Homo sapiens: one gene and its partners. The protein of the gene in region 1 interacts with the protein of each later gene in a pairwise test. Each region holds a gene or a part of one and is shown on either strand. Other genes may lie near its edges. The genes, in order: NSG1, CACNA1C, SLC30A4 and TMEM207.

Region 1 (7,020 bases):
CTGACCTCAGGTGATCCACCCACCTCGGCCTCCCAAAGTGCTGAGATTACAGGCGTGAGCCACCACACTCAGCCAATAAACTTTTAAAATGTAAGTTTTTGACTCTTTTGTAATAACACTTAGCTTAAAGCTCAAACATCTTGCACAACTGTATATTATTTTTCTACATGTGCTTTTTCTATTAAAAAATTTTTTAATTCTTTTTTTACTTCCAACACATTTTTGTTAAAGCTAAGGACACAGACACACACATTAGCTAGGCCTGCACAGGGTCAGGATCCACAGTATCACCGCCTTCTGCCTCCACACCCTGTCCCACTGGAAGGTCTTCAGGAGCAGTGACAGGCACAGGGCTGTCATCTCTTAGGATAACAATGCCAGGCCAGGTGCAGTGGCTCACGCCTGTAATCCCAGCACTTTGGGAGGCCTAGGTGGGTGGATCACCTGAGGTCAGGAGTTCAAGACCAGTCTGGCCAACATGGTGAAACACCGTCTCTACTAAAAATACAAAAATTAGCCAGGCATGGTGGCGGGTGCCTGTAATCCCAGCTACTCAGGAGGCTGAGGCAGGAGAATCGCTTGAACCCAGAAGGCGGAGGTTGCAGTGAGCTGAGATCATGCCACTGCACTCCAGCCTGGGCAACAGAGGGAGACTCCGTCTAAAAACAAAACAAAACAAAACAAAACAAAACAAAACAAAACAAAACAAAACATTGCCTTCTTCCAGAATCTCTCTTGGAGGAGCTCCCTGAAGCTCTTTTAGAGTTAACTTTTTTTTTTTAATAACTAGGCATGCACTCTAAAATACTGATTAAAAAGTATAGTACGGTAACATAAACAAGTAACATACGCGTTTATTGTCACTGTCAAGTATTATGTTCTGTATGTAATTGTATGTGCAAGACGTTTATACAGCTGACAGTGCAGGGGGTGTGTGTATACCAGCACCTCCGCAAAGTGAGGAGTGTGTTGTGTTCCGTCTACACGGTGGCTGCGAGGTCACCAGGCGACAGGAGGTTTCAGCTCCGTGACAGTCTTATGGGGCCACCATGGCATGTGGTCCATCGTTGACCCAAATGCTGTTATGCCGCGTGTGGCTGTAAAACGCACTTGCTGGTTCCCCACAGGGAGGAGGGGGTGGCTAAAACTGCCTTCCCTATCCTGCAAGCCCAAGTCCCGCTGGATACCTGGCCTGGGTGGGAGATGACCCAGGAGATGAAGCCCCAGTCCTGTGTCCGGCTGCAGATGAGACTGGCGGCCACAATGGAAGGGGCCTGGCACCTTTTGTTTAAAAGGCGCTCCAGGTGATTCCCATCCACAGCCAGCCTTGGGAATTGAGAGTCCCCTGATAAGTTGTTCTGGAGTGATGTCCTGTGGGACTTTGGCATTTTCCACTAGCATCTAATGAGGGGGTGTCCTTTCCGGAGAAGGCACCTAGGAAGGCCAGGGAGCTGCTGGTCTGTATCCAGCTGCCCTTGGCCAAAGCTGGAGAAAGGAGAGGCGTGAGCTCATGAAGTCCCCTTGACCTCCTCCCTCCATATTTGTGCGTGTGTTTGTCACACACCAACGCTAGGCAGCTTGTGTGGGGCTTTTACACCTGTTGCTCACGGAATCCATACACTCGGTAGCTGTGGGCTCCCGTTATCCATACACTCAGTAGCTGGCTCTGAACTTCCCAGAGTCAGTGTGAGATGCTCATCTCCAGGGCTTGGCACTGCTGAGATTAAAATAAAGCAGGAGAAGCCAACTGTTTCTAGCACTGAGCACGTGCACAGGGAAGCCTGGCTTGGCAGCTGTCACTGGGTAGCTTGGGTTTGGGTTTCATTTAGGTTTTGTTTTTTGCTGATATGAGGACGCAGAGAGTCCTTACGCGATTAGCAGGAAAGGCTGGAATTCACGTTGTCCAGCCCAAGTCCCTTTTTCTCCTTGCACATCATGCTGTCCTTCAGGCTCCCGACATTCAGCTCTTCCTCCCTTGGGCAGGCATGTACATGGCACCCACCCCGTGCCAGCAGCTCTTGCTATTGTTCTAGGCGCTGGAACACAGCCGAGAGCCAGTCAGGTACAGCCCCCTGCCTTCACGAGGCTCTTACATTCTCAAATGAACGGTGAGGAAGTCAGTCGTACACTGAATGTGAAGGCTATAGACAGACAGGAAAGAGGGCCCAGGGGTTGGGCATGGGCATGTGGGCGGTAGTTTCTAGAAGGATGGTCCACATTGGAGGAGCGGGTCTCCAGGAGGTGAGCCAGGGAGCTTGCGGGTCTTGGGGGAGTGTGCCCAGCCAAGGAAAGCCCCCACCCTTTCACTCATGTTTTATTCAGCAAGCCCCGTCCACGCCCTAGGCTGGGGCTGGGAGAGTTTGAGTCTGTTTTGGAGGCTGAGAGGACACCAGGGCTTTACAACAAGCAGAAGCGGAGGGTGCGGGCTTCAGGGAACGAGGGCAGTGCTGGCCCTGACCCAGTGGGAAGGGGTTTGTGATGGTAGAGGAGCACAGAGGGAGCAGCGGGCAGTGGGGACGTGCTGGTGGGGGTGTGCTGGTGGGGGGCTAGCCACAGGCACAGGGAGGCGGCAGAGGATGAACCAGCTTACGGCCAGAGCGGGTGCATCCTGAGTGCCAGGCACAGGCCCCTGGAGGAGGGGGAAGTGATAGGGTGACCTCTTGGGTCACCTGGGGAGGCTGGAGATTGGAAGGGAGAGACGGGGCAGTGAGATGACCAAGGAGACTGCTGCAGTGGCTGAGGGAAGAGAAGACTGGGGCGCTGGGGATGGAGGGGAGACTGCAGACTGGAGAACTGATTTAATCTGGGAGGCAGAGGGGTAAAAGGAAAGGGCCTGGTGCAGAGCTAGTTACTGAGGGAGGCCGATGTCATGGAGAGGGAGCACGGGCAGGCCCAGGAGCTGGCCCTGAGCCGGAGAGAGGACAGCAGAGGACAGCTTCCTGGGGGCCGGAAGTCCCCACCGAAACTGGCTACTTACAAATAACTGAGGCCAGTGGCTTCACCAGCTGCCCTGGAGCTTCCTTCCTGGCTCATCCTCTCTGAGCCTGGAGCAGGTTCCCCACAGGGAGGAGGGGGTGGCTAAAACTGCCTTCCCTATCCTGCAAGCCCAAGTCCCGCTGGATACCTGGCCTGGGTGGGAGATGACCCAGGAGATGAAGCCCCAGTCCTGTGTCCGGCTGCAGATGAGACTGGCGGCCACAATGGAAGGGGCCTGGCACCTTTTGTTTAAAAGGCGCTCCAGGTGATTCCCATCCACAGCCAGCCTTGGGAATTGAGAGTCCCCTGATAAGTTGTTCTGGAGTGATGTCCTGTGGGACTTTGGCATTTTCCACTAGCATCTAATGAGGGGGTGTCCTTTCCGGAGAAGGCACCTAGGAAGGCCAGGGAGCTGCTGGTCTGTATCCAGCTGCCCTTGGCCGAAGCTGGAGAAAGGAGAGGCATGAGCTCATGAAGTCCCCTTGACCTCTTCCCTCCATATTTGTGCGTGTGTTTGTCACACACCAACGCTAGGCAGCTTGTGTGGGACTTTTACACCTGTTGCTCACAGAATGCATCCAGAAGCCCTTTGAGGTGGATGCTGTTATATCCCCATTTTACCAGTGGTTAGAGGGTGTACAGAGGCTCTTCGTGGAGCCCAAGGTCACGCCCTTCAGTTCACTTGGTACAGTCAGCATGTACTAAGTACCTCCTACTATGTGCACACTGGACTCGACACCTTGAGGGCAGGGACCTCAGAGCCCCAGGCAGTGGGGAGGGGACAGGCTTTTTCTGGACAGCCACTCCCAGTGGCCCCAAGCTGAGGCATATCGTGAGGAGGGTGAAAAAGGCAGACGTGGCCCGAGAGGACACTAGGTTTCTACCTCTGCCTTTAAAAAAAAACAACAACAACATGAAATTACTACATGTTTTATAAAAAAGTTTTAAACATAATGGGGAAAGTGCCCCAAATCCCACATTTTTATACTGGCTTTTCCCTTTATATTGGCCATTCTTTTTTTTCATGTAGACAGGTTACACGTTCTTGCTATGTTGCCCAGGCTGGTCTCGAACTCTTGGGTTTGCTCAAGTGATCCACCCTCAGCCTCCCAAAGTGCTGGGATTATAGGCATGAGCCATCGCACCCGGACCTTAGTGGCTACTCTTTTCCAGTGCTGACTGAGTGCTGGGTGCTGGGAACACACTTACGTAGCTACCTCAGTCCTCCCGTGCCCCACAAGACAGGTCCGTCATCAGCTTCACTTCACAGGTGAGGGAATGAGGCCCAGAGAAGTTGGGGAACCTCCCCAAGCTCCTCCAAGTGCAGGCCCAGCTGAGTCACGCTCCCCTCAAGGCACACACCCCACAGGTGAGGGTGGCTCTGTATGAGATGGGTATGGGGGGCGGCAGGAGCCTCTCAGAAAGCCTTCCCTGGCCCATGTGGGCTCACGGCAAGGCCTCTGCATTCTGCTTCCGTTGGGAAGCCCTTCACCCCCTGGGGTGCTCGCCACCATGGGCACCAAGGTGCCTCCCCAGCCTTGCCTTTGGGCAGCCACGTTGTCTGGGAGGCATCTGGGGACTCCATCTGTCCTTCTCCCTGGGCGGGGCACCTGTAGGGCAGGGCCGTTTCTGAGCCATCTCGTATGCCAGCCCTGAGCGGGGCCGCCACTCCACAGGTGTTGGCCGCATCAGGTCTTGCAGGACTCTGCTGGGTGCCGAGGTGGGAGGGAAGAGGGGAACCCTTGGTCCGTTTCCCTGAGGGATGACGAGCAGCAGATGGAGAGGACAGCGTGAAGGGGCGTGGCGGTGAGGCTGGAGGGGAGTTTGTCTGGCCTGCAGAGCCTCCTTCCTGATGCACGCGCTGCTGGTCTGAATGGGCTGTTTGTTCTGTAGCGTGTCAGGTGCTTCCCGACGTCCTGGTGGGACTGAGATCAAGACGCTGTTGATAAAAGGGCTGTACTTCAGTGGTGTCTTTTGGCTTTCTTTTCTGTCCACACTGTGACCTGGGGCACATCCTGGCTTCTTTACTTGAGCCACTGTGCATTGACTTGAGTCCTCAGCAACACGGTGGTGTGACTCATTGGCCGCATTTTATAGGTGAGGGACCTGAGATTGAGAGAGAAAACACTCCGCACGTGAACTCAGCTGGTACGGTGGGCCTGGCTCCAAAGCTTCCCTTCTCCTGTAGCGCCGCCCTCCTGCCAGTGGCAGCCCCTGAACACTGGATGCGGGGCAGTGTTGGTGAGAAGCACATTCCATTTGTCATTTCTCTTTTGAAAATAGCTCTTTGTTCACAAGGGCCTTGCAGGTATAAAGTATTCTCATCTTTAGACTTCAGGGTTCAATGAGCTGGTAACAGAGAATGGATTCCCCATGGGGGCTGGGTGGCATCAGGAGCTGATCCCTGTACACCTGCCTTAAGCCCGTGGAGGTGAGCCACTCACCTCAAGGACAGGCTGCAGCCACAGCTGCCAAAACAGGGAAAACGCCCCCGGCCCTGCCTGAACCACAGGGCCTGGCCTGCAGGGAATGGGGGTGTGGATTTGCTGCCAGAATCCGCTTCCTGATAAACCTCTGTAAGACCCAAGTGCTGTCTCGCACTCCCCCAACCCACGGCCCCTCCCTACCCCCTCGCCATCTTCCCAGCCCCTAGTCATGACCACCTAGTGGCTCTGTGTGCCTCTTCTGACTCCCGCCCCAAGGCCCCTCTCTGCTCTGGTTTCCTTTGCCTTGAGTGCTGCCCCTCCCTCATCTCACCTAGCTAAGGTCTGCTGAGAACCTAGCTCAAGGGAAGCTCTTCTCACTTCCCTTCCGTCCTCATTTGAATTGGTTGTTTTGGGATATTTCATAAGTTGTTGTTTTCCAATTGATTAAAAATGACAACTAGTGCAAGATCTTCAGTGAAGTAAGGCCTGCTGTCCCATTACACTGGCACCCTTGGAGCCCAAGTGCCCATCTGCCATGGCACTCACCAGCCAGTCTATTAAGAATAATCAAGGCCAGGCTTCCCCTGTGCTGTGCTCTCTCAGGGCAAGATCCATGCCCGTTTTTGCTCATCACTGTATCTATTCCTCCAAGCTCAGGGAAGGTGCTCAGTAACTGTTGGCTGCCAACTGGAGACACACTGGCACCCCCTCTTGCACCGACGCGTGCTCTCAGTGGCCTCTTGTCTTTCAGAACACCCAGTGCATCCCAGAAGGCTTGGAGAGCTACTACGCGGAGCAAGACTCCAGTGCCCGGGAGAAATTTTACACAGTCATAAACCACTACAACCTGGCCAAGCAGAGCATCACGCGCTCCGTATCGCCCTGGATGTCAGTTCTGTCAGAAGAGAAGCTGTCCGAGCAGGAGACTGAAGCGGCTGAGAAGTCAGCTTAGCGGGATGGGCAAGTTCCTTACAATGTGTCACTTGCAAATAACAAAGGGACTTTGAGGGACATTTCATTAAATATAATTACTGATACTTTAGAGGTTACTCATTTACGGTGCAATTGCTTCTGTTTGCTAATGCTGCTTTGCAAATAAAACTTGCTGCCGACCACCCACGGGCATAAAATCAAGTGCATTTCAGCATTGCCTAAAGAGCTCTGACACCACTTTTCATGTTAAGATCTTCATTTAGCTCCTTTACTGGGATTTATTGGATGCTGTAAAAAAATAAATTTACACTGGATATGCGAAGGGTTTGGATCTCAGATAAATGCATTTTGTGGAATTGATTTTCTGAACCGACCCTGCTGTCTGCAAACCTTCCTCCATAGCCATATCTAGAGTGATCTCTCGCTGTGCTAAGAGCAAGCCTACTTCGCATTTCTTCCTCGGCCATCAGCGGGTAACAGTGCTGACTGCTGCCAAGGTGCACTGTAGTAAGTAAGTGGCATAGAGAACGAGGAAAAAGACCCCCCCACCCCTCCCTGTGCTGACTCCTGAGTCGGGGTGGGACGGCCCTGCAATGTGGCAGGCTCGGTGTGGATTGACTACTCCCTCCCCTCTGACTCTGGCATCTTGGTAAGGAGGGAGGGGCACCACCCATCTGGGTGGAGA
Region 2 (7,356 bases), on another chromosome or scaffold:
TCTAACCCCTATGATGGCTCACCCGCCCCCTTTAGTGATTAGCCACAGCAACCTCTTCCTTGTCAATATTCATTCTGTTCTAGGTCTGCCCTTCCCACCTCCACCACCCTCCTCCCCTCTCCTACCCCAACAACCTCGGCAATGCCAACCAACTAAAGAAGAGAAGATGGAGAGTAGAGGGGAGACAGGGATCTTGGTGCTCTTCCACCTGGGAACCGCATCTAGAAATGGAGGCAAAACTGCTCCCATGAATTATATAATCACTGCAGCTTCAAGGGAGAGAACTGGAATTCAGGTTGCCATAGCGTTTGCTGGCATGTTGCTGGAAAGGTAGAGCTCTCAGCCGCTGGCTCCCTTGCTCCCTTCCCCTCTACCTTTCTCAGGAACCTCTCTGGGGTTGGCACTCCTACTTTTAATGTCTGCTCCCAGCATACAGCAGGGAGATGCTGAGAGGCAAAGGGGCCAAAGAAAACAACCAGAGTAAGGAAATGGGTTCAGAAGGGGTTTATCCTGCACTAAGAGGAGACCTTGTAAACTAGTTAAGATTATCATCCTGTGAATAAGGTGAATAATCACTATTATTACCACAGTACATTGCCATTGACAGTGATACTTAGGGCAATACTACAGAGCTCTCCTCTTCAATGCTGCTTAGACTGAGGAGGTGGGTAAAGCACGCAGTCTCAGAACCTGGAGGGGAGTCATCTTGCATCCCCACTCTTCACAAATACCACCCTCTTTTGTGTCTCACTCCTTCCCTCCTAAACCATTCACTAGCCCATCAGCTACAGAAGGGAGAGGGGATCAGGTGAGGGATGGGGTCAACAGTAGAGAAATCCAAACATGGATACTGCCCTTGTGACCCCAAAGCTCTGGCTCACCCTAGAACCCATGACCCTTGACAAGATTCTTTCTTCCAAAGGAGGCCACAATCCCCAAGCTGCCACCCATGCTGGAAAGCAGAGAAGACTGGCCCCAAAATCGGTTTCAGGATAGATGGAGACCAGGCAGGCTGGATGGCAGCTTCTGGCTCTAAAGAGTGAAGGCCCTGTCCCCAAAAGGTGGAGCTGGGAGCAAACAGAGGGAAAAAGCTGGACAAAAAGACCTGGAGACAACTCCTTCCACCAGGCTGGTCTTCAGAGGATCACTGGGAAGAACCCAGGGAAGGAACAGAGACCAGCAGTGACAGATAGGCTTTCAGGGGAAGAGAAGAGGAAGAGTGCAAACAGGGAGGCTCTGGGAACTGGGAGAGAAAAGGGAGAGACTACACCCAAAGAGACAGAGCAGTGGCGAGAAGAAAGAGATGTCATGCCTGGAGGTTGCCAGAAAGCCCCGCTGGACCACCCTGTCTGCACCCCCCGTCCCCAAAACCTTAAATGCTAAGCAACGTCCAAGAAAACAACTTGTTAATATGGGGGGAGAGCGGTGAGGGAGAAAGTTTCCAGGAAGTAGGGAGTTACCTGACTGCCTTTCACCATCACAGGGGGAGCTGGTGACACTCGCGGCCAAGGATGGAGATGCTCGGAAAACACTGGGCAATAGTATGGAGCCGCGTGAGCCAGGCACACCCTTTCATGATCTCCTTCAAACACGAAACAGCAAAGCCCACACACCGCCCGGCTCCTCGCCGCTTCCATCCTCAGGTGCTAGCCCACATGTGGGTGCGAATGAGAACACACGCGGCGTGGGCGCGCTCGGGGTCAACAGCAGTGGAGAGGTGGGTGGGTGTAGGTGAGCGGCGGAGGAGGGAGGGAGAGAGGAAGAAGGGGACCTACAGAGGGGGAACCAGAGGGGCGCGCTGGGCTTCACATCTGCACCGCCGCCCCCACCCGCCACCTGGAGCGCGCCGCCCAGGGCAGGGGCGCCTGGACGAGAGTGGACGCCGGGCAGCGCGAGGGCGCCCCAGGGGCGGCCGTGGGCGCCGGGCTCTGCCGGCGCAGGGTGCGCGCGCGCGCGCTCCCAGCCGCGCCCCGAGCCGGGCGAGGGACCCCGGGCCTCTGGGCTCCGCGGCGCCGGCGCCCTCTGCCCCCCGCGCGGCTGGCCAGGCAGCCGGGCTCTCCAGGCGGACGCGAGAAAGCGAGGCGGCGGCAGCCACTTGGGGAACTTTTCCCCCCTCGCCTGGAATTTCACAGGAAACACATGCTCTGGAGAAGCTGGGGCCCGGAGGGGGAGGGGCGGGAATTTTCCGCTCCGTCTCGCGCGGCGGTTCGGGCCCCGGTCCCGCCGGGCTCCCGGGCGCTCCGACGAGGCGGAGGCGCCCCTCGCGGACGCGGCCCCGGGCCACTCCGCAGGGACCGGCCCCGGGGCCGCGGGGAGCGCGGGTAGGGCAGGAACCCGGTGGAAAAGGCAGGGAGCCCCGGCGAGGCGGCGGGGTCCAGCCTTACCTTGGTGGTTTTCCTCTGGAATGTACATCCTCGTATTCTCATTGACCATGGACCAAAAATGGTTTTAATAGGAGGAGCAGCCACGAAGAGGAAGAAATGTGAAAACACCCCCCGGCGGGTCTGGATTAATCCCTCCTCCGAGGCCGGCGGCTTTCGCGCAAGATTCGAGGAAGCCGTGGTCTGCAGCGTTTCTTCTTCCCCGCCGACGATTACCTGATTCCCATTATGGCATCAAACCCCAAAAACTGCTCCTTTCCACTACTGCCTCCTCGAGTGAAACTGTAACGCATCCTCAGTACATCCGGGCCCCTTCCAAGAACTGAGCACCGCACCTCCGGCGGCTACACCATTTGAAAAAATAAATCGGGAGAGGCAGGGCGAGAAGAGGCGGAGAGGAGGGGCGGGGGGCGCGCGGGGCCCGCCTGGGCCGGCAGGGGCCGAGGCGCCTCTGCCCACTCCCAGCGAGTCCTCCTGAGGCCCCTGCCCGGCTCTCTGCTGTCAAAGGGAGCCGGCAACTCCTGGGCGCGGAGGCAGGAAGAGCCGCCGCCGCCGCTCCGGGCCCGCCGCGCCGCGCCGAGCGCCGCTCTGGCAGGAGCTGTTTCTGCAGAGGCAGCGAGAGGGAGACACCGGGCGCGCGAGAGCGCCGCGCTCACTCCCCCCGGCCCAGCCCCGCCGCGCCCGCGCCCGCCCCTGCCCGCGCCGCCCGCCCGCCCGCCCGGCGCGCCGGAGGCAGACGCGCTGAACGCTTCCAGATGTGGCTGCGGCGGCGCGCAGGGAGCCGGGCGCACGGCGCGGGGCGCACGGCGGCGGACTGGAGCCCGAAGTCGGGCCCCCTCCCGGCGCCCGCGGCAGCGCCGCCCGAGCGAGCCCTCCGCCCGCATGACGTCAAAGGGAGCGGGCCCCGGCCGCCGGCGGGCGAGGGGCGGCGTGAGGAGCCCCCGGGGAGGCCGGGGCGCGCGGCGCACCCGGGCGCCAGCCGCGGTGGCCGCGGTGGCCGCGGCGCGGACACACCCCCTCGCGCCCCGCCGGCGGCGTCGCGCCCCCCGCGCCGGCCTGCAGCCCCCCGCCCGCGTTCTCTCCTCCGCTGCGGCGGCGCGTCCCTGCTGGGCCGGCCACGCCGGGAAGGCCTCTGTGAGCGGAATTCCAAGGAGGAGGAATACAATTTGCCCGACTACCAGAGTCTCGTTTCGGATCGGGCCACTGAACAAAACGGCAAGATGAGCCGTGATTCCGTGATTCTGTTTGATCAATTATAATCAGAGCGGTTGTAGAAGTGACAGATAGAGGAGGGGAGGGGAAGCGGGAGGGGCAGCGAGGCGGAGCCTGGTAGGCGAGGCAGCGGTGCCCAGATGTCTGAACAGATTCCTAGACCCAGGTTTAATAATTCCTTGGAGGCAGCCGAGCACGTGTTCTACTAGGATATCCTTACCTACTTCTCTTAATTATTTCTGCAACTCCGGCAGGAATCTATCCAGCACCTCTCCTTCCCGGAGAAGCAAACACTTCCCTCCATCACTCCCTGCAACCACAGCAAGTTCCACGGCACCCCCTGCAGGACCGGGCTCCCCTCCAGTGGGGCTTCGTGATCCCTTTCAGGGGGGCCTACAACTCCCTCTTGGGGAAAACCTCTACCTGCCTCCACATAAGACCTCCTCGCCTCCACATCCACCCTCATTCCCTGGGTGACCCTAACCATTCCCGTGGCTTTCAGCAGCTGTCTATATCAAATGTCTATCTCCAGCCCAGACCTCTCTCCTGAATTCCAGACTACAGCTGACTCCGTCTGATAGACATTTCAAGCCTAATACATCCAAACACTGGATTCCTGATCTCTTCAAAGCCTGCTCCTCCTCACACAGCCTTCCCCATCGCAGTCGATGACCATCCCATACTTCTAGTTGCTCAGTTCAAAATCCTGGAGTCACTCTTGACTCCTTTCTCTCATCATTCCACGTCTAGTCCATCAGGAGATCCTGTTGACCCTACCTTCAGGTGAATTCAGAACCTGACCACTTCTCATTTCCTGCACTGCCACCACCTGGGGCTGAACCAGCATCCTTCACCCAGGTTTCTCCTGTGGCTGATCCCCCTGGTCTACCTTCCCTCTCCCCTCTGGTATTTTCTCAATACAGCAGTCGGAGTAACCCATTTAAAACATCACATCCCAGCACTCCTCTGCTCAAAACCATCCATGGTTACCCATTTCACTTAGTAAAAGCCATGGTCCTTGTGGTGACCTACAGGAATGGCTGAGTACAAATCCCCTTACATCATCTCCTACTGCTGTCCCCCTCACTCGGGATACACTAGCCTCCTGGCTGGGCCCCAGACACTCCAGGAATGACCCCTCAACACACACGCACATTGTAAGGCCTTTGCTCTAGCTATTCCCACTGCCTGAAACACAAACTCCCTCGGCTTCTTCAAGGCTTTCCGCAAATCTCACCTGTTCAGTGAGGCTCACCAGGACCTCATCCTGATTCAGTACTGACAGACCCCCACAGCGCTCCCTATCTCCCCTTACTCTTACTGAAATCCTGTCTAACATACTATATAGTTTACTTATTCATTAACTTTATTGCTTATTGTCTGTATCCCCCCACTAAAATGTAACCCCCATGAAGGCAGGTGTCTCATCTATTTTGTTCACCAGTGCCTAGAGCAGTATCTGGCAGATAGTAAGTACATAATATGTATTGAATAAATGAGTGAGTGCCTGAGATACTTTCAGGAGTGTTGCAATTCCCCCTATGAAAATGCATCTGTCCGTCCCTTGGTACCTGAAACCTTACCACTCCTGTTTCCTTCCTTTGTCCAGTGGTTCTGGCCCCAGTGTAAAATGCAAGTGCCCCTGGGAGAAGTATTAAGCTGTTTCGGTCATCTTCATTCTAATGTTAATAGCGATCTCAATTTTGTTGGTTACAAGAGAAATCTGGCCTCTTTGCCATTCTGGTGTGTTCATACTCAATTTTCAACTTAATAGAGAAAATTAGAAATGACACAAATTCAAATATTTCGCATTTACTTTAGGATGCATTATAGGCCTGTGTTTCAGAGGCTGCTGTAGCTGATAATTTGTTTAAATGAATAGTAAAATTGGTTTGCATCCCCTTTACACACAAGTGCAGGAATAATAATAATAGCTAACACTACTGAGTGCTCTGTGCCAGGTACTGTGATAGGCCCTTTACAGCCTTTATCTTATTTAATCCTCACTGCGATCCAATAAGCTATGTGTTATCGTCATGATTATCCCCATTTTACAGATATGGAAACTGAGACTTCGAGACTTGAATTACAATGTCCAGGGTCACCCAGCTGAGTAAATGTGGAGCCTGGACTTAGCCCAGGCATATCTGACACCAAACTCAGTCTCTACTATTATCTTACTCATTCTTCTGAGGGGTGAAGTGTGGGTGAGCTGGTGGGGGCAGGGCTGCAGGGAGATGAACAGGGTGAAATGATTGCAAAATATGCTGCAGATAATTCACAAAGAGCCAAGTCACTGGGAACAGAGTGTATGTGTGTTAGGGGGTCACGTGCAGGATTTATAGCCCAGCTTTTCTAAAGGTAGGCACTGTATAAATCTAGCAAGTAAATATTACCTCCACGCTTCTTTAGTTTCATTTTTCACTTCTCTTTTCAGCTGTGAAATGTGTTCTTTCCTTTCCAGAAAAAGGTATTTCCTAAATATTTGGTCTTGCAGTATACGCCCATATCCCAGCTTTTAACTTTGGAACACAGCCCTGGGTGTGCTCTTTCGAGGTAACAAATTCTCAACATGACAAAAGGAGACCATTGTGAATTCCGATTTGGGGATTTGGGAGGTGGTGGGAGCAGAGGAGGGAGTCTGCATTTCTCTGTCATTGAATGATTTGATTCTCCAGCTAAAGAATCTCCCATAGGTCTTCATGTGTGCCCTCTTTCTGCATAGTATTTTGCTTATATTTGCATGAGCCTTTTTCTCTCCTCTTCCTTACTACATTTTAGGTGTCTTCAAGAAGAGAACTGTGTTTATTCTTTGTGCATAACATAATGCCTTGTACATATGGACACTCAATTTGTGTTGAGTGCATGATTCACTCTGGAAAAGATTTTTAAATGTGACCACAGATATTTTCTTTGGAAGCAATTAAGAGTGCACTGAATTTGTTAATTACAGTATATTTGTAAGAGTGAAAACCTGGAAATGAACTAAATATTCAACAAAAATGTTGGTTAAATAATAACACTGAGAGATTATTCTAAGTGCCTCACATACATAAAGTCATTTGCTCCTCCAAACAACCCTGTGAAGGAATTGCTTTTATCCACATTTTACCGGTGAGGAAACCAAAGCACAGAAACGTTTACTCACTTGCCCATGTTTCACAGCCAGTTGATGTTGAAAGACCTGGGATTTGAACCCTAGCAGTCTTCAGAGCCTACGCTCTTAACCACCGCATAGATGAACTAGAGTGCATTCATACAGTTAAATTCTACATAGACATGAACAATATTAAGGAAGAATATTAGTAACGTGGAAAAAGATGATTTACATTAAAAGAAAAACAAGTCACGAAAATATTACAGGCACTATGATTTCATTTTCCTTTTAAAGTCAGGTTTATATTTGAACTAGGGAAAAGACTAAATAGGGTTCACACCAAAATGTTGACAGTATCCTCAATCTGGGGCAGGTGGGGAAAAAAAGTGTTGACAGTAGCTGTCTTTGGGAGGTGGGATTACACGTAAATGTTTCTTCTTCTTCTTCTTCTTCCCTGTCTGGTCCAAGGCTTGAAAAGCCAGGTTGCCAAGCAGGCTCTTCCTCTTCCCTTAGCACACACACACCTCTTGACACAGAGCCCTCCCCCCACTGCCTAGCCAGGGACAACACTGCTAATCAATCTCTTCAGAATAAGTCTCCCATCAAGTCTGCAAGGTGTCCCTTCTATTTCTCTCCCTCTGCCCACCACAACAGCCACTCAGCACT
Region 3 (7,883 bases), on another chromosome or scaffold:
ATCTTAATGATTTTTACTTAGGTGAAATAAACTCTGAATTATTAATCATTTTAAGGGGGGATGCTGTGATTGTTATTTTAACTTCAAATATTCAACGTTAACTTCAAAAATCATTAAACCTGAATGACTCAATATTCTAGTTGTGTTAGTTTGGGCAAGTCACCGAATCTCAGTCTGCTGAGACCATGGTGCTTTATCTGGGGCACAGGTTGTCTCCTGTCTTTTAATTTCTTTACAGCTCAAGCATTTATAATTATCTAACAGAATAAAAATGAATTAATTCAACAAGTTTATTGAGTATCTACTTTGTGCCAGTCACTGTTCTAGGTGCTAGGAATTCAGCCTGTATTTCAGTGGAAACAGGTAATATTAAATGAGTAAATAAATAAGATATCTCAGATGCTGAGGACTTTGAAAGTTGGAGAGGGAACAGGGAACAAAAGAGATTTACTTTAGTCAGTCAGAAAAGGTCTCTCAAAAGTGTGGGTTTTTTTAATTTTTATTACTTATTTATTTATTTATTATTTTATTTACTTATTTTTTTTTGAGACGGATTCTCACCCTGTTGCCCAGGCTGGAGTGCAGTGGCGCAATCTCGGCTCACCACAACTTCCGCCTCCCGGGTTCAAGCGATTCTCCTGCTTTAGCCTCCCAAGTAGCTGGGATTACAGGCGCCCACCACAACGTCCGGCTAATTTTTGTATTTTGTTTTTAGTAGAGACAAGGTTTCACCATGTTGGCCAGGGTGGTCTCAAACTCCTGACCTCAGGTGATCCACCCACCTCGGCCTCCCAAAGTGCTGGGATTAAAGGCGTGAGCCACTGCACCCGGCCGGGGTGTCTTTTTAAATAAGACACGAATGACAAGAAACTGGCCAAGAAAAGATTTGGGAAAGGCAGTCTATGTAAAGCAGTGTTTTTCAAGCTAAGGCCCTGACCTACTGCAGTGGACACACGAAATCCATTTAGTGAGCTGGGACCACAATTGAAGAAACTATTAGGATACATCACATGAAGGAAAACTTTTGTTTCAGTTATACATATATTTATACACATGTGACCTGTGTATATTCTCATACATATGTATGCATGCATGCCTAAATGAGTCACAATGTGAAGTGTATTTCTTACTACAGTGAGGTCAAAAAATGTTTGAAAGCCACTGAGATAGAAGGACCAGCCACTTTGAACGCCTTAGAGGCAAAAAGAGCTTTGTGAGTTGTAAGAGGAAAAAGAAGACCAGCATGGCTGAAGCGAGCCCTGGGGAGGAGTGTTATGAAAGAAGGTAGGAAATGTATATAATTTTTCCCACATAGAACCCTCCAGTCAAACATCTTAAATCTGGACTGCCACCTGTTTTTGTCATGGTTCATCATTTAAGAGATGACATGTAAGAATCATCTCCCTGCTTTTATGTCACTTTGTAAACTGTCACTGAGAAGTTAGTAGTTATACTGACGTGATTGAAAATAACCTCTAAACTAAGAATGTATCTTATATTGAGAACGGATTGTTCGTATAATTAAAAAATGAACAAGAAAACCAGGCTCATAGAACTTTGGCGGAGTCCTCTGGTTCATTTCAGGCCCTTCTTACGAGGCAAAAATTTCATGTTAGTTGGTAATTAATTTTGCAAATCTCTTGGCTATAAATACAAAAGGAAATCGTATAAAAGAAACCACTTAGGTCAAATGTAGAGGAAAAAAATGCTGGGACTGTAGATGTGGCTCTTCCATTAACTCCCTAAGTGGCCCTCACGACTTATTCCACTGGTTTGTGCCCTGGAAATCCTTACATGTAAAAAAAAAAAGGAGGTGGAGCAGGTGTTCAGTAAGGTCCCTTCATACTGTAAAATTCTATGATCTTAAGTTATTTACGATCATTTACTATTTTAAACGTTGCGAAAATTAACCTGGTATTTTACCAGACCTTTGTAAAAAGAGGAAGTTACATGACATACAATGAAGATAACGTCCTTAACTTTACGGTAGATGACAGTGGTTGAACAACTAGAAGAGAAAGTCAAAGTTATCTCGGGGAGTTTATATTGTACTTAGATTGAGCTGCACTTTGGAACCGTGTGGCCTTTTCACATGAGATCAGTGTCTTGATAAATACAAACTTCCTGAAAAGATGGGTTAAACCTCAAAGCCTGTGTAACTACAGCTTGACAAAGACTCTCGAGGAAAGGTAAACGGAAAGTGAGTTGGCAACACAACTCACCTACAAGTTCTCCAATCATGAAAAGCAAGTACAGAACGGCAGCAATGGTCAACCTGGCTTTCACCTTTCTCTGCTTCAGTATCTCTCTCTGTTTGCTGCAGTTGTCACAGGAGTCCACCTTCAAACTCAGCTGACTGTTGGTCAAAGGTAAGTCTTGGTCCAGTAAGGAATCATCGTCGGCCTGGAGGGTCGGGTGCGCCCCGTTAACAGGCCTTTCCGGGGCTTCGGAACCGTCATCGGCCACCACAACTCGAAGTTTGTTGAACCGAGAAAGCCCCTCGTCCCCCGCCTCATCCGAGAAGTCAAAGGCGCTGGTGTCATTTAAAAACAGCGGCGCATCATCCTTCCTTAGCATAGATTTGAGGCGCTTCCACGCGCCAGAGCCGGCCATGGCAGAGGCTGAGCGGCCGCGGTGCGGAACGGCTTGGGGGAGGCGGACGGCCGGCGGCGCCTACTTCACCGGAGCGCCAGTTCTCGAGGGCAGTGCCGCGCGTCCCTCCCCATCCTGTGGAAAACGAAACACGTTATAAATTAAAGGCGCCCAACCCTGTCCTCAAGTTCCGAAGCCGCTGGCGGCGGGTCGCAGGGCCGACCCCGACGCTCCGCCGGGGCTCCGCGAGGGGGCGGCACATCTATTTAATACCTGGGGCGCTGCCGCGGGGCCGCAACTCATCTCCCCGCCCCCGGCCGGCTCAGCGAGGCGGGCTCGCGCTGCTCCACCCGCGGCCGCAGGAGAGTGGGGTCGTGCTCGCGCCCGCCGCGCCCGCTGCTGGAGGCCGGCTCCCCAGGTCTGACAGGTTCGGGGCCGGACGCCCACAGCCACCGCCTCTCCCCGCCCTGCGCGAGGCCACGCGCGTGCGCCGGGCGAGGCGCGCGAGGGAGGGGTCGGCGCGAGGACACGCAGGCCTGGCGCGCAGGGCTGGGGCGCCCGCGATGGGCGGGGGCGCGCGGCGCGCCCCGCCTCTCGCCCCGAGGCTGGATTGGGGGCCACTGCGCCGCCTCCGCCCAGGGGTCACTCACTGGCCAACTGAGGGGACTTTGGGCGGCCTCTTCCACCTTCCCAGGCTGGGAGGCAAGTGCGGTCGGAGGGTCACGCCGGGGGCTGGGCGTTGCTGCTAGGAGTTCCCTCCACCGAAAGTGTGTCTCAGGAATCTCGGGTCGGGATCTGGGTTGCGGGTGCTCGGCAGAAGACAAACCCAGCACTTTTCTTGCTAACTGAAAAGGCAAGCAGCTTTTCTCTCCTCGAATTGCTTGTCTCTGGCAAATTGGCAACATTTGCTGCAGTCAACTGGAGAGGGCAAGGCTGTCGTCGTCAGCAGTTCTGTGTCCTACTGTTTTTCAGCAAATATGTATTGTCCTCTTTGTGCTCTCTGCCGTGTTCCTTTTGCCTCCAAGGTATTTACGATATGGACTAAACTCAAGCATAGAAAATCTAGTACAGGCATACCTTGGAGATACTGCGAATTTGGTTCCAGACCACCGCAATATGACAAAGTGAGGTCTCACAAATGTTTCATGTCCCAGTGCAAATACAATCATGTTTATAATGTAGTCTATTAAGCGTGTAATAGCGTTATGTCTAAAACAATGTGCATACCTTAATTTAAAATATTGGGAGAGAGGAAGGAAAAAGTATATATACATTTGTTAATTGCTCTGAGGAAGGAGGGTCGCATGAGCCCAGAGGTTCGAGATTACAGTGAGCTATGATTGTGCCTCCGCACCCCTGCCTGGCGACAGAGTGAGACCTTGTCTCTAAAAATAAACAAGTAAATAAAATACATGACTGCTAAAAAAATGCTATCAGCTGGGCGTGGTGGCTCACGCCTGTAATACCGGCCCTTTGGGAAGCCGAGGCGGGCGGATCACCTGAGATGGGGAGTTCAAGACCAGCCTGACCAAAATGGAGAAACCCTGTCTCTACTAAAAATACAAAATTAGCTGGGCATGGTGGCGCATGCCTGTAATCCCAGCTACTAGGGAGGCTGAGGCAGGAGAATCGCTTGAACCCGGGTGGCGAAGGTTGTGGTGAGCCGAGATCACGCCATTACACTCCAGCCTGGGCAAGAAGAGCAAAACTCGGTCTCAAAAAAAAAAAAAGCTATCAATCATCTAGGCCTTTAGCAAGTCATATTCTTTGCTAGTTGGAGGGTCTTTGCTCCTTGTTAATGGCTGCTGACTGATCTGGATGGTGGCTGCTGAAGGTTGGGGTGGCTGTGGCAATTCCTTAAAATAAGACAACAATGACATTTGCTATATTGATTGACTTGTTTTCATGAAAGAGTTCTTGATGGCGTGTGATGCTGGTTGATAATATTTTACCCACAGTGGACCTTTCAAAATTGGAGTCAATCCAGTTTTCTCAAACCCTGCCTCTGCTTTATCAACTAAGTTTATGGAATATTCAAATCCTTTGTTGCCATTTCAACAGTGTTCACAGCATCTTCACAAGGAGTAGATTCTATCTCAAGAAACCACTCTCTCTGCTTATCTATAAGAAGCAACTCCTCATCTGTTCAAATTTTATGAGATTGCAGCAATTCAGTCACATCTTCAGGTTCCACTTCTAGTTCTCTTGCTATTTCCACCACATCTACAGTTACTTCCTCCATTGAAGTCTTGAATCCCTCAAAATCATCCATTAGGGTTAGAATCCACTTCTTCCAAAATCCTGTTAATATTGATATTTTGACCTCCCATGAATCACGAATGTTCTTAATGGCATCTGGAATGCTGAATCCTCTCCAGAAGTTTTTCAATTTACTTTACCTAGGTCCATCAGAGGAATCAATGGCAGCTATAGCCTTATGAAAGGTATTTCTTCTTTTTTATTCATTTATTTTTATTTTTAGATGGTGTTTCACTCTTGTTGCCCAGGCTGGAGTGCAATGGCGCGATATCGGCTCACCGTAACCTCTGCCTCCCGATTTCAAACTATTCTCCTCCCTCAGCCTCCCAAGTAGCTGGGATTACAGGCATGTGCCACCACGCCTGGCTAATTTCGTATCTTTAGTAGAGATGGGGTTTCACCATGTTGGCCAGACTAGTCTCGAACTCCCGACCTCAGGTGATCCACCTGGGTCGACCTTCCAAAATGCTGGGATTACAGGCATGAGCCACCGCGCCCGGCCAGTCACCCAGGTTTTGTTCCATTTATAGAGCACAGGTAGAGTAGATTTAGAATAATTCCTACGGGCCCTAGAATTTTCGGAATGGTAAATGAGCATTGGCCTTAACTTAAAGCTACGGGCTGCATTAGCCTCTAACAAGAGAGTAAGATTGTCCTTTGAAGCTTTGAAGCCAGGCATCAACTTCTGTCTAACTATGAAAGCCCTAGGTGGAATCTTCCAATAGAAGGCTGTTTCCCCTGTATTGAAAATCTGTTGTTTATTGTAGTCACCTTTAATGATCTTAGCTACACCTTGTGGACAACTTGTTGCAGTTTCTCCATCAGCATTTGCTGCTGCTTCTTGCACTTTTATGTTATGGAGATTGCTTTTTTCCTTAAATCTCATGAACCGACCTCTGCTAGCTTCAAACTTTTCTTTTTTGTTAAAAAAATTATTTAATTTATTTATTTTTAAATAGAGACAGGGTCTCACTATGTTGCCCAGGCTGGTCTGGGTATTTCTAATTTCCTTCAAGAACCTTCCCATTTCCCAGAGTCAAGTGATAAAAGTTTAATACAAACAAACAAACAAACCCAAACAATAAAAAAGAACTTTTCATTTGCATTCACAACCTGGGTAAGAAAAGGCATAGTGCAGGGCATGGTGGCTCACGCCTGTAATCCCAACACTTTGGAAGCCTGAGGCAGGCGGATCACCTGAGGTCAGGAGTTCGACACCAGCCTGGTCAACATGGTGGACCTCTACCATAGTAGAGACAACCCTGTCTCTACTAAAAATACAAAAATTAGCTGGGTGTGGTGGCATGTGCCGAGTAGCTCCCAGCTGCTTGGGAGGCTGAGGCAGGAGAATCGCTTGAAGCTGGGAAGCGGAGGTTGCAGTGAGCCTCGCACCATTACACTCCAGCCTAGACGACAGAGCAAGACTCCGTCTCAAAAAAAAAAAAAAAAAAAGAAGAGGCATAGCTTTCAGCCTATCTCAGCTTTCTTTCTTTTTTCTTTCCTTCCTTCCCTTCCCTCCCTTCCCTTCCCCCCTCCTTTCCCCTTCCTTCCTTCCCCTTCCCCCCTCCTTTCCCCTTCCTTCCTTCCCCTTCCCCCCTCCTTTCCCCTTCCTTCCTTCCCCTTCCCTCCTCCTTTCCCCTTCCTTCCTTCCTTGCCTGCCTCCCTCCCTCCTTCCTTCCTTCCTTTCTTCCTTCCTTCTTTTCGTCCTTCCTTCCTTCTTTCCTTTTTTTGGAGTGCACAGGCACAATCATGGCTCACTGAAACCTCTACTGCTCAGGCTCAGGCAATTCTCCCACCTCAGCCTCCCAGAGTGTTAGGATTATAGGCGTGAGCCACCATGCCCATCCTTATCTCAGCTTTCCATATGCCTTTCTCACTATGGTTAATAATTTCTAGCTTTTGATTTAAAGTGAGAGATATACAACTCTTCCTTTCACTTAAACACTTAGAGGTCATTGTAGGGTTATTAACTGGCCCAATTTTAATATTGTGTCTCGTAATAGGGAGGGCCAAGGAGAGGGAGAGTGAAGGGGGACGGCTGGTCAATGGAGCAGTCAAAACATATACAACATTTATCAGTTAAGTTTGTCATCTTATATGGACAAGGTTCGTGATGTCCCCAAATAATTACAATAGTAATATCAAAGATCACTGATCACAGATCAGTATATCAGATATAATAATAATGACAAGGTTTGAAATATTAAGAGAATTACCAAAAGGTGACACAGAGACATGAAGTGAGCCCAGGCTATTGGAAAAATGACGGCGACAGATTTGCTTGACACAGGGTTGCCATAAACCTTCAATTTGCAAAACTGGCAATATCTAACAAGTGCGAGAAAGTGAAGCACAATAAAACAAGGTGTGCCTATAGAGGTGTCCTTTTGGCTATTGGGTCTGTTTCACAAAAAAAACAAAAAACAGCCAGATGCAGTAGCTCATACCTGTAATCTCAACACTTTGGGAAGCCAAGGGGAGAGGATCTCTTGAGGTCAGAAGTTTAAGACCAGCATGGGCAACATATTGAGACCCCGTCTCTCCAAAAAATTTTTTTAAAGCCTCCAAGGAATTGGCGGTTGCAGTGAGCTATGATTGTGCCAGTGTACTCCAGCCTGGGTAATAGAGGGAGACCCCATCTTTAAAAATCAAAACAAAACAAAACCAAAAAAAGAGGAAGAAGAAATAATTGTGGCTTTTTTGTTTTTTGTTTTTTTGAGACAGGGTCTCGTTCTGTTGCCAAGGCTGGAGCGCAGCGGTGCGATCTCGGCTCACTGCAGCCTTGACCTCCTGGGCTTAATCTATCCTCCTGCCTCAGCCTTTTGACTAGCTGGGACCATAGGTGCTTGTCATCATGCCCGGCTAATTTTTGTATTTTTTTCCTTGTAGAGATGGTTTTTTGCCATGTTGCCCAGGCAGGCCTTGAACTCCTGGGCTTAAGTGATCCTCCTGCCTCAACCTCCTGTAAGTGCTGGGATTACAGGTGTGAGCCACCATGCCCAGCCAATATTTAAATTCTGTAGTAGCTTCTG
Region 4 (7,894 bases), on another chromosome or scaffold:
TCACAAACAGCATAAGACAGAGTGAAAAAGCAGTTCCAAAATTAACGTAAAGAAATAGCAATCGAGAGCCATGCAAAAGCTGAAAGAGCAGCACAAATTTAATAAGCAGATTGTTAACAATAAGAAGATCCACCAGAAGCAGGTGAATGGTCCCAATTTCTGCTGTGAAATACAGTCATAGCCTCCTGCTATACAGAGAGCATGGCTTTGAGTGTAACAGGCAATGAAGACTGAAAACAGCTGCTAACAGTAAGGGCTGCAAGCAGGAGAAGATAGTGCTGGGTGGAAGTGCTTTTCTGATACTAAATCACAATGAATTACAGATATTAATTATCAGTATCATTATTAATGGCACCTTCTCTTCATCTCCTGAATAGAATTCTGAGAACCATTAAGTCTATCGCACAAAAAGTGAAAAAATTGAGTCAATTGTTCACATAATTCATATCACAAGCACTTTGAAATAGACACACAGTACAGGTTAGAATTTTGGTCAGTTTGCTTGTATTTTAAACTGAGTTATACAGAAAACTGCCTCCCTTGGTCACTGTGATTTTTGAGTGTGGATGAAGCCATAGATGACATCATGATTCTTTTATGAACTTAAAGTACCCTTGAAACCTTAAGGAAGATAAATTCAGTGTGCAAAAATATCTAGAAATCAACTAGGCCTCTTATTTATTTAACAAAGCTGATCGTAATGAAAATTATCTTTCCTGTTTTCAGAAAAAAAAATGGAGCCATCTGCATTTACAAACCATTTACTTTTCTTCTGATTATAATGATCATTTGAAACTCAACTGGGCTTTTTCTAATGGCTTGAGCCTTTTTTATACTTTGAATTTTTTAAATGCGAAATAAAAACATGGAGTTTTTCGCTGTTTACTTACATTTCATCTTCTTCGCATGGTAGGTCCGAGAGCACCAACTGAAACACATGTTTAGAACAATAAAATCCAAACATCTCATCAGTCTAATCCTTTAATACAAGCAGCGCCTAGAGACAATGTGGGTTTATATCATTTCGTTTGCTTTTTTAATTAAAAGCTCTATAGCAGAGTTTATTGTTGGTACACAGAATTTTAATTGAAAAAATCTCTGGGTGGATTCTTAAGCTCAGCAGTGGCAGAAGATATATATTGTGAACCAGATTCCATTTCTACATACCAATATAAATGGATTTTACGACAATTTTTGTTTTTTCTATATGCAGATTTTGCTTGCTCTAAAGAGCTTTTGTGCACTTTGCATTTTTTGTTTTCATGTTGTAGCTAGAGGTCAGAGGTTCATTATTAGTGAGTATTATTTTCACGCAAAAAAAAACAAGTTCCAAGTACATACATGGAAACAGAAGTCAAGCCTATTAGCATTAATGGGCATTAAATATATATTCATGAAAGGGCGACTTTAACCTGCTCTAAGGGTAAGGTCCATTTAAGATCACATGACATTCCAGTTGAGATTTACAGTCTTCTCTTTATCAGAGAAGAGAAAAAAAGTAATCATCTTTGTTGCTTTGTTTGAAAAGTCCAATACTATAAGCATTCTAAAATAATGCTCTTAGTTATCTGCACTGAGTGTCATAGGTTACAACATCTCATATACTAAATCACAAGGAAAAAGGCACTTCTTTCTAAAGATCTTATTATCTATTTGCTTGCTTGACCCTTTGAACCAGGACTCCTTCCTTGTACAAGGAGAAAGTCTTTAAACGGCATTTATGTGTAGCTCTGAACACTTAGTTGATGAAGTCAGTTGAAGTATTTATTTTCCTGGACTATAACACGCAAATAAAAGTACAAGTAAGAAGTTACAAAATTTAAAGTGATAGACTTGGGAGTTCTGTGTGAGATGTGTCTTTTCCCCCCTTAATCCCAAAAGCATCTTCTTCAGCACCTTGTATTTACTCCACCAAGTTTATCTGGGCAAAGAGATTTGTGGAGTTGCAGATGGAGCCATGAATTGGCCATCAGAGAGCATGGTAATGAACAATTTATAAGCACAGAAAATGAGTTGCATTCTTTTTTGCTAGAATGCTGCAAATAGATTTGCATACTAAGTGAAAGGAAAATGAACATTCACATTTTGTCCATAAAGAAAGTTTATTTATGAGTAGATGAAATCGTTTGGGATCCAGCTTAACAGATAAACAAATAAAACCAGTATTTCACTTTCAAGTCACTTCCGTGTTTTTTCTGTGTGTTGTACCCTAGCAATAGTACACAGTATTAAATTATTAGCACCTCACTGCCAACACATTAGCTGTCAAACTTCCAGTTATTATGAAGAGGTAAGGAAAGCTATAATTTACTTTAGATCTAAATCTTTCAGATACCTTGCATTGAAGTCACACAGATCTAGAGATGCACGTGTTAGTCAGAAGGGGATGCTGGAGCAGAGGAACTGAAATAAATCCTAAAATGGTTCTGTCTACATCAGTCAGCATTGAAAAACTGTCAAGCATCAAGTATGGTTGTAGGCAATAGTAAACATGTCTTAAATTAATCTAGCCATAGCATTTTGTTCTGTGTCAATAGCATTTTGAATTTAAAAAATTACAGCATAGCAAAGTTAAACAAAGGTTAAATTTGCAATCACGTTATTTCAGTAGCAATAGAACTAATTGAAGGAGAAATAAGACTAATGCCTTGGACATTTTGTTTTGTCCCTCTGACCAGTGAATACAAGAAATCATAAGATGCTAGTAAAGCTTGAAGGAAATCTTTTAAATGTAGAAGCAGTTAAGTTGCTCACATATAAATCTATAGCAAATCAAGTCCTCAGAGTACCTCAGAGTACCTCTGAAAACCTTAACCCAGAAAGAGAGATAGTTACCTGGAATAGCGGCAAACACAAGATCCCTATCGTTGAGATCGCTGAGGTGACACTGAAAAGTCTGGATCTTGACATATTTAAAGGACAGTCAACTTAGGATAGTGGTTTGGTGCCTGTGTTTATTTCCTTCTTTCTCAGAACTTACTAGCTTCTCTATAAGTTATGCTTCCTACCAGGACATGCATTAATAATGGCTCCTTGTGACTCGTAAAGTGCATGCTAGGGGAAGGAATGTTGGGTACATGTTTACAGGTACTAAGAGCCCAAGGAATTTAAGTTTAAGGTGAGAACTTTAGCACTGTTTGTCAAGGCCTTTAAAAGTAGGGGTTATAAATGCTGACCTACAGAGCTAGCTGGCTACTTAATAACTTTCCACATTCAAGTGCATGTTTTATTCCAGGGAACTTCTGGGTTTCTAATAGTATTTCATATTTGGAACATTTATTCAATTTTCTTCCCTTTGTTGGTACTCTTTGTTCTCCTACACACCATTTTCAGTTCCAGGTCTAACCCAAACTTAGGCATAAAGCTTTCCTTGTTTTATTGTGATAATACCCCTCTTTTAAACAAGGTATATTTCAATGTTTATTTTATGAAACAACTCCATCACTACCACTGAAAAATAAAGCAAGAATATCTAGGGAAATTCTGAGAAAAAGAAAAGGCACTAACCTATTGTACATTAAGATGTCTTAATCTATGCATTTTACAAAAATTAGTACTGATATGTGTAAATAATAAGGTAAATGTAAAAGAGTAGAGAGTTTAGAAATGGAGAGTTTAGACTCAAATAAACAAATTTATTTAAGCTTCCATTTGAAACTAGTGGAGAGAAGATGGATATCTTTCAGGGTATAATGAAGAGCTAAATGGTTATGTGGAAAGAATGTAACAAATGATTGTTAAGATGCTTAACCTCAGTCATAATTAGATAAACATACCTTAGAATTATAATCAGATTGGCAAGTTCAAAAAATTGATAATATAGGGAAGAGGGATAAATACTGGGAAACAAATACTCTCATATACGGTTGGGAAAACTGTACAGCTTATTTGGAAAACAAGTAGGCAATATACATCAACATAAAAAATAAATATGCCCTTAGAGCAAGAATTCTCCTTGCAAGATACATGAATGTACCCCTTACACATGGCACAAATTACTATATGCAATGATGTTCATCGAAGCATTGTTGGTGTTAACAAAATATTGGAAACAGCAAATATTCATGAAAATGTGACAGACTAAGTACAAAATGGTTATATAAATTCAACAGAATACTAGGAATCTGTTTTAAAAGGTGGAGACAGATCACAGATGCTGATATAGAGAGGTCTGTAATAGTTATTGAATAAAAGGAACAAAAATCACAGAACTTTGTGTACATCATGTCACATTTGTATGCAAAAATAGGAAGGTAGAGCTATAGTATTCTCTCCGTACACAAAACTTATGCATATATACTTATATATGCATAGGATGTCTCTGCATGAAACTGCTAACAGTGGTTGCTCTGTGAAAGGGAAATTGCAAACTAAGAAGACCAGAGTGGGAAGGAAATTTACTTTTCACTGTTACTTCCTTGTATTTTTGATATTTTTTACAATGTCTATATGTCATCTAATTATTTTTTACATATATTCACTTCTAAGAGCCAATTTTGAAGGCAATGATCCACAATGCAGAATGAGAATATCGTAATTCAAGCTCCAGTGTAGTTCACCACATCCAATTCAAATTGTAATGTATGAACCCATTTACAATCACACACATAGATTGCTCTAGAAACAAACCAGCAGTATTAGGTATCTAAACTACTGCACAGAGTTGGCCATCGCGGTATATGGACTAGTTGAGCTGCATCTGGATGGGTGAAGCCGTCTGTGTGGTGACTACGCTCTGTTTAGTATGCAGCCACGGTCGCAGCCATGAATTTCAAAGCAGAGGAAGGCTTGGTGCCAATGCCAATAGGAGAAAAGTAAACCAAACCTACAGTATTATTTATCCCCCAGATACGCTCCATTTTGAGTGTCTCTGAAGCCTGTAATTAAACAGAATGAAAAATAGGCTTTTCACTGGTGAACTTATTTATTAGGCAGTCAGAAGCCTGACTTCCGTCGGTGGAGTCAATGATCTTAAGAATTTCTGGGAAAGGAAGAGGCCAGATGACTAGAGAAGAGACAGAATGGAAATAAGGGCAGCATATTTGGTTTTGCCTCAGAAACTGCAATAATGACCAACTACATACATGGATTAAGTAATTATTGTCAAAAAAAATGCATGATTCTGCAGCAGCTGCCTGATTAGGAGTATGGCAGCTGAATGGAGATGGAGTCTATAGTCACAATAGTAATGCAAACACAGCAATTATATTTGGTGCTAAAATCAAAATTTATATTCATTTCCACCTTGCCATTTATCCATTTACTTCTGTGACTTTCCCATGCCACTTCCAACGTCCAGCATAACAGTTTCTAAGACAGTAGTTTTTCTAGTACATTTCCTTCCTAGCATCATGAGAGTTTGGTGGTTGTGGAATACAAAATCTGACCATGAGTGCAATTTTACCTGCAAAATTTTTTTAATAGATACTTAAAATTAAAATAGCTTATTTTGTGATAAATTTAAATTCACAGGCAGTCTTAAGAACTACTACAGAGATCCCATATACTCTTCATTTAGCTTACCCCAGTGGTAGCATCTTACATAACTGTTATACATTATCACAACCAGAAAATTGACATGGAGGCAATCCACCATCGGCATGATTTTAAAAAAATTTATATGTACATAACAGTCGTTCATATTTATAGGGTACATGTGATATTTTATCACTTAAAATGTGTGATCAATTTTGTAAGTCCAACTACATCCTTATGTGCATGAACTTGTGGTAGTGAATTGTCATCACTGGAAAGTCAAGCTGAAGATGGTTGACTGCTATACATAGCAATATGGTCTCTTAGATCACTAAGATTCTAGGGACTTTTTATGTTTGATTATAAAAATAGAAGTAGGCAAAACTTGAAAAGAATCTGTAGAAGAAGAAAGAGGACATGCACTGTGATAGTGTATAAAATTCACCCAGTACTTGGATGGTGGACCTTTTATCTACATCTTTGTTACAAAAGAATGGACACACATATATTCAACTTCACAATTCTGGTTATTCACCTATCTCTTTTCTTTGTGAGAAGAGATTAATCCTTCCGAAATGGCTGGAGTTCAGGAAATATGAAAACTATCCTCTGGATTTGGAGCCTGACATAAGTCAAAATTCCCTGAAGCTCTGAAGTCATATCAATATTTGTCTTTAAAGGTCATGGCATGCAGCTCTTCGAAAGGATTGAGGACCAAAATTCAAGGAATTAAGCGAGAATAAATAAAAGGTATGAATAAAAGTGGGCATGCATAAAGGAAGGTCCAAAGAGCAAGCAAGGGATCACCAGCTACTCTCTTTATCAAAATTAAAGGCACAAGTTAAGGTTCTAGGAGTTAGGAAGCCTTGGTCACTAATAATCAGCAGTATGACAATAAACAGTTATTTATAAAAACTGCATTTTCTAAAATAATGATAATAATATTGAATTATCTTTCTCTAATAATTTCATTAAAGATCACATTGAAAATATCAACATGAAATCAGATATAGCACAGATGTAAGATGTTGATTACTGGAGCATAAAACACAACAAAATACAATAAAATAAACGAGAATTTCAAAATTAATTCAGAGATCCATGGAAACAATAGGAGTTGAAGTAATATAAGGAGGACATAAAATGAGGCAGCAAGCTGTCGGAGTCTCTAGTTTCTCCATTTGCTTCTTCTCCCTAGTGAAAGGAAATATTGATTACATTGCCAAATCCATGGTGAACTTTTAGTCATCTTACTTTAAGTAATGGACAACATTTGACACAGTTAATCACTTCTTGCTCCTTTACCTTCCTCACTTGGCTTCCAGAATGATATCGTTTTTGATTTGCCTCCCAGTTTGCTGACCATTTCTATTCAATTCTCTAGACCTGCCATGTTAGGAATTCCCTAAGACTCAGTTCTCAGACCTCTTTCTCTTCTGTATATATCCACTTTCTCAAGAATCTCAGTCAGTTTTACAGATTATCATCCATAAAGTGACAACTCTGAGATTTGTATCTTCAATCCAGATATTTCCCCTGAACTCATGAGATTAACTGTCAACTCCATGTCAGTTGGCTGGGGAGGAGATTGTTACGATATTTAATATAGCAGCTGAGGAAAACATTACTGAGAATGTGGCATTTCAGCAATGACCTTAAGGAAGTGAGGAAGTAAGCCACGTGGAAAATGTGGGAGGTGCATTTCAGACAAAGGAAAGATCAAATGCAAAGCTCCCTGAGACAGAAGAATGCCTGGGAAGTGTGTGGAAAAGCAAGAAGGCAGAGTGTGCCTAGAACAGACGGAGTTGAGCGGAGACTCTCAGTTGGCTGGGGAGGAGATTGTTGTGATGGCAGCTGAGGAAAACATCACATGTCACATAATGTCCATATCATCATTGGATATATTAGACTTCTGCAAAGTAAACTTAACCCAAACCTAGCTTCTCATTTTGCTTATCTCTTCTCTATCCTTTGTGTTTTCTCCAAATATTTCCTAGATCAGTAAGTTAAAGCCTTTTCTTTTTGTTTTTTCAGACCAAAAATCTTATAAATATTTTTTAGTTCTCTCTTTCATATGCCATACCTAATGTATCAGTAAATCCTGTAGTCTCAAATTTCAAAATATATACAGACCCCCAGCACTTTCTACTACCTTGACTAACAACTTTTTACCTAACTTACTCACCAACCACCTTCATATGTTACCAAAATTACTGCCAGTAGGTTCTTAGCAGGTACTTCTGTTTTTCCACTTGCCCATCTGCAATATACCCTCAATATAGCAACTGGAATGATTTTTTTTTTTTTGAGACAGAGTCTCCCTCTGTCACCCAGGCTGGAGAATGCAGTGGTATAATCTTGGCTCACTGCAACCTCCACCTTCCAGGTTCAAGTGATTCTCCTGCCTCAGCCTCCCAAG

What was found.
Region 2: the proteins of NSG1 (region 1) and CACNA1C interact in binary tests that used the Homo sapiens proteins (3 or more experiments, as listed by UniProt).
Region 3: the proteins of NSG1 (region 1) and SLC30A4 interact in binary tests that used the Homo sapiens proteins (3 or more experiments, as listed by UniProt).
Region 4: the proteins of NSG1 (region 1) and TMEM207 interact in binary tests that used the Homo sapiens proteins (3 or more experiments, as listed by UniProt).

What each region holds. Positions count from the first base shown.
Region 1 is NC_000004.12:4,411,082-4,418,101, forward strand, and holds part of NSG1 (neuronal vesicle trafficking-associated protein 1), read left to right. Parts: intron 1-6,153; coding exon 6,154-6,354; 3' UTR 6,355-7,020.
Region 2 is NC_000012.12:2,048,640-2,055,995, reverse strand, and holds the start of CACNA1C (voltage-dependent L-type calcium channel subunit alpha-1C), read right to left. Parts: upstream 3,010-7,356; 5' UTR 2,434-3,009; coding exon 2,385-2,433; intron 1-2,384. UniProt on the Homo sapiens protein: Pore-forming, alpha-1C subunit of the voltage-gated calcium channel that gives rise to L-type calcium currents. Mediates influx of calcium ions into the cytoplasm, and thereby triggers calcium release from the sarcoplasm.
Region 3 is NC_000015.10:45,519,742-45,527,624, forward strand, and holds the start of SLC30A4 (probable proton-coupled zinc antiporter SLC30A4), read right to left. Parts: upstream 3,015-7,883; 5' UTR 2,866-3,014; exon of another isoform or gene 2,728-2,865; 5' UTR 2,614-2,727; coding exon 2,223-2,613; intron 1-2,222. UniProt on the Homo sapiens protein: Probable proton-coupled zinc ion antiporter mediating zinc import from cytoplasm potentially into the endocytic compartment. Controls zinc deposition in milk.
Region 4 is NC_000003.12:190,446,900-190,454,793, forward strand, and holds the start of TMEM207 (transmembrane protein 207 precursor), read right to left. Parts: upstream 3,003-7,894; 5' UTR 2,911-3,002; coding exon 2,836-2,910; intron 929-2,835; coding exon 891-928; intron 1-890.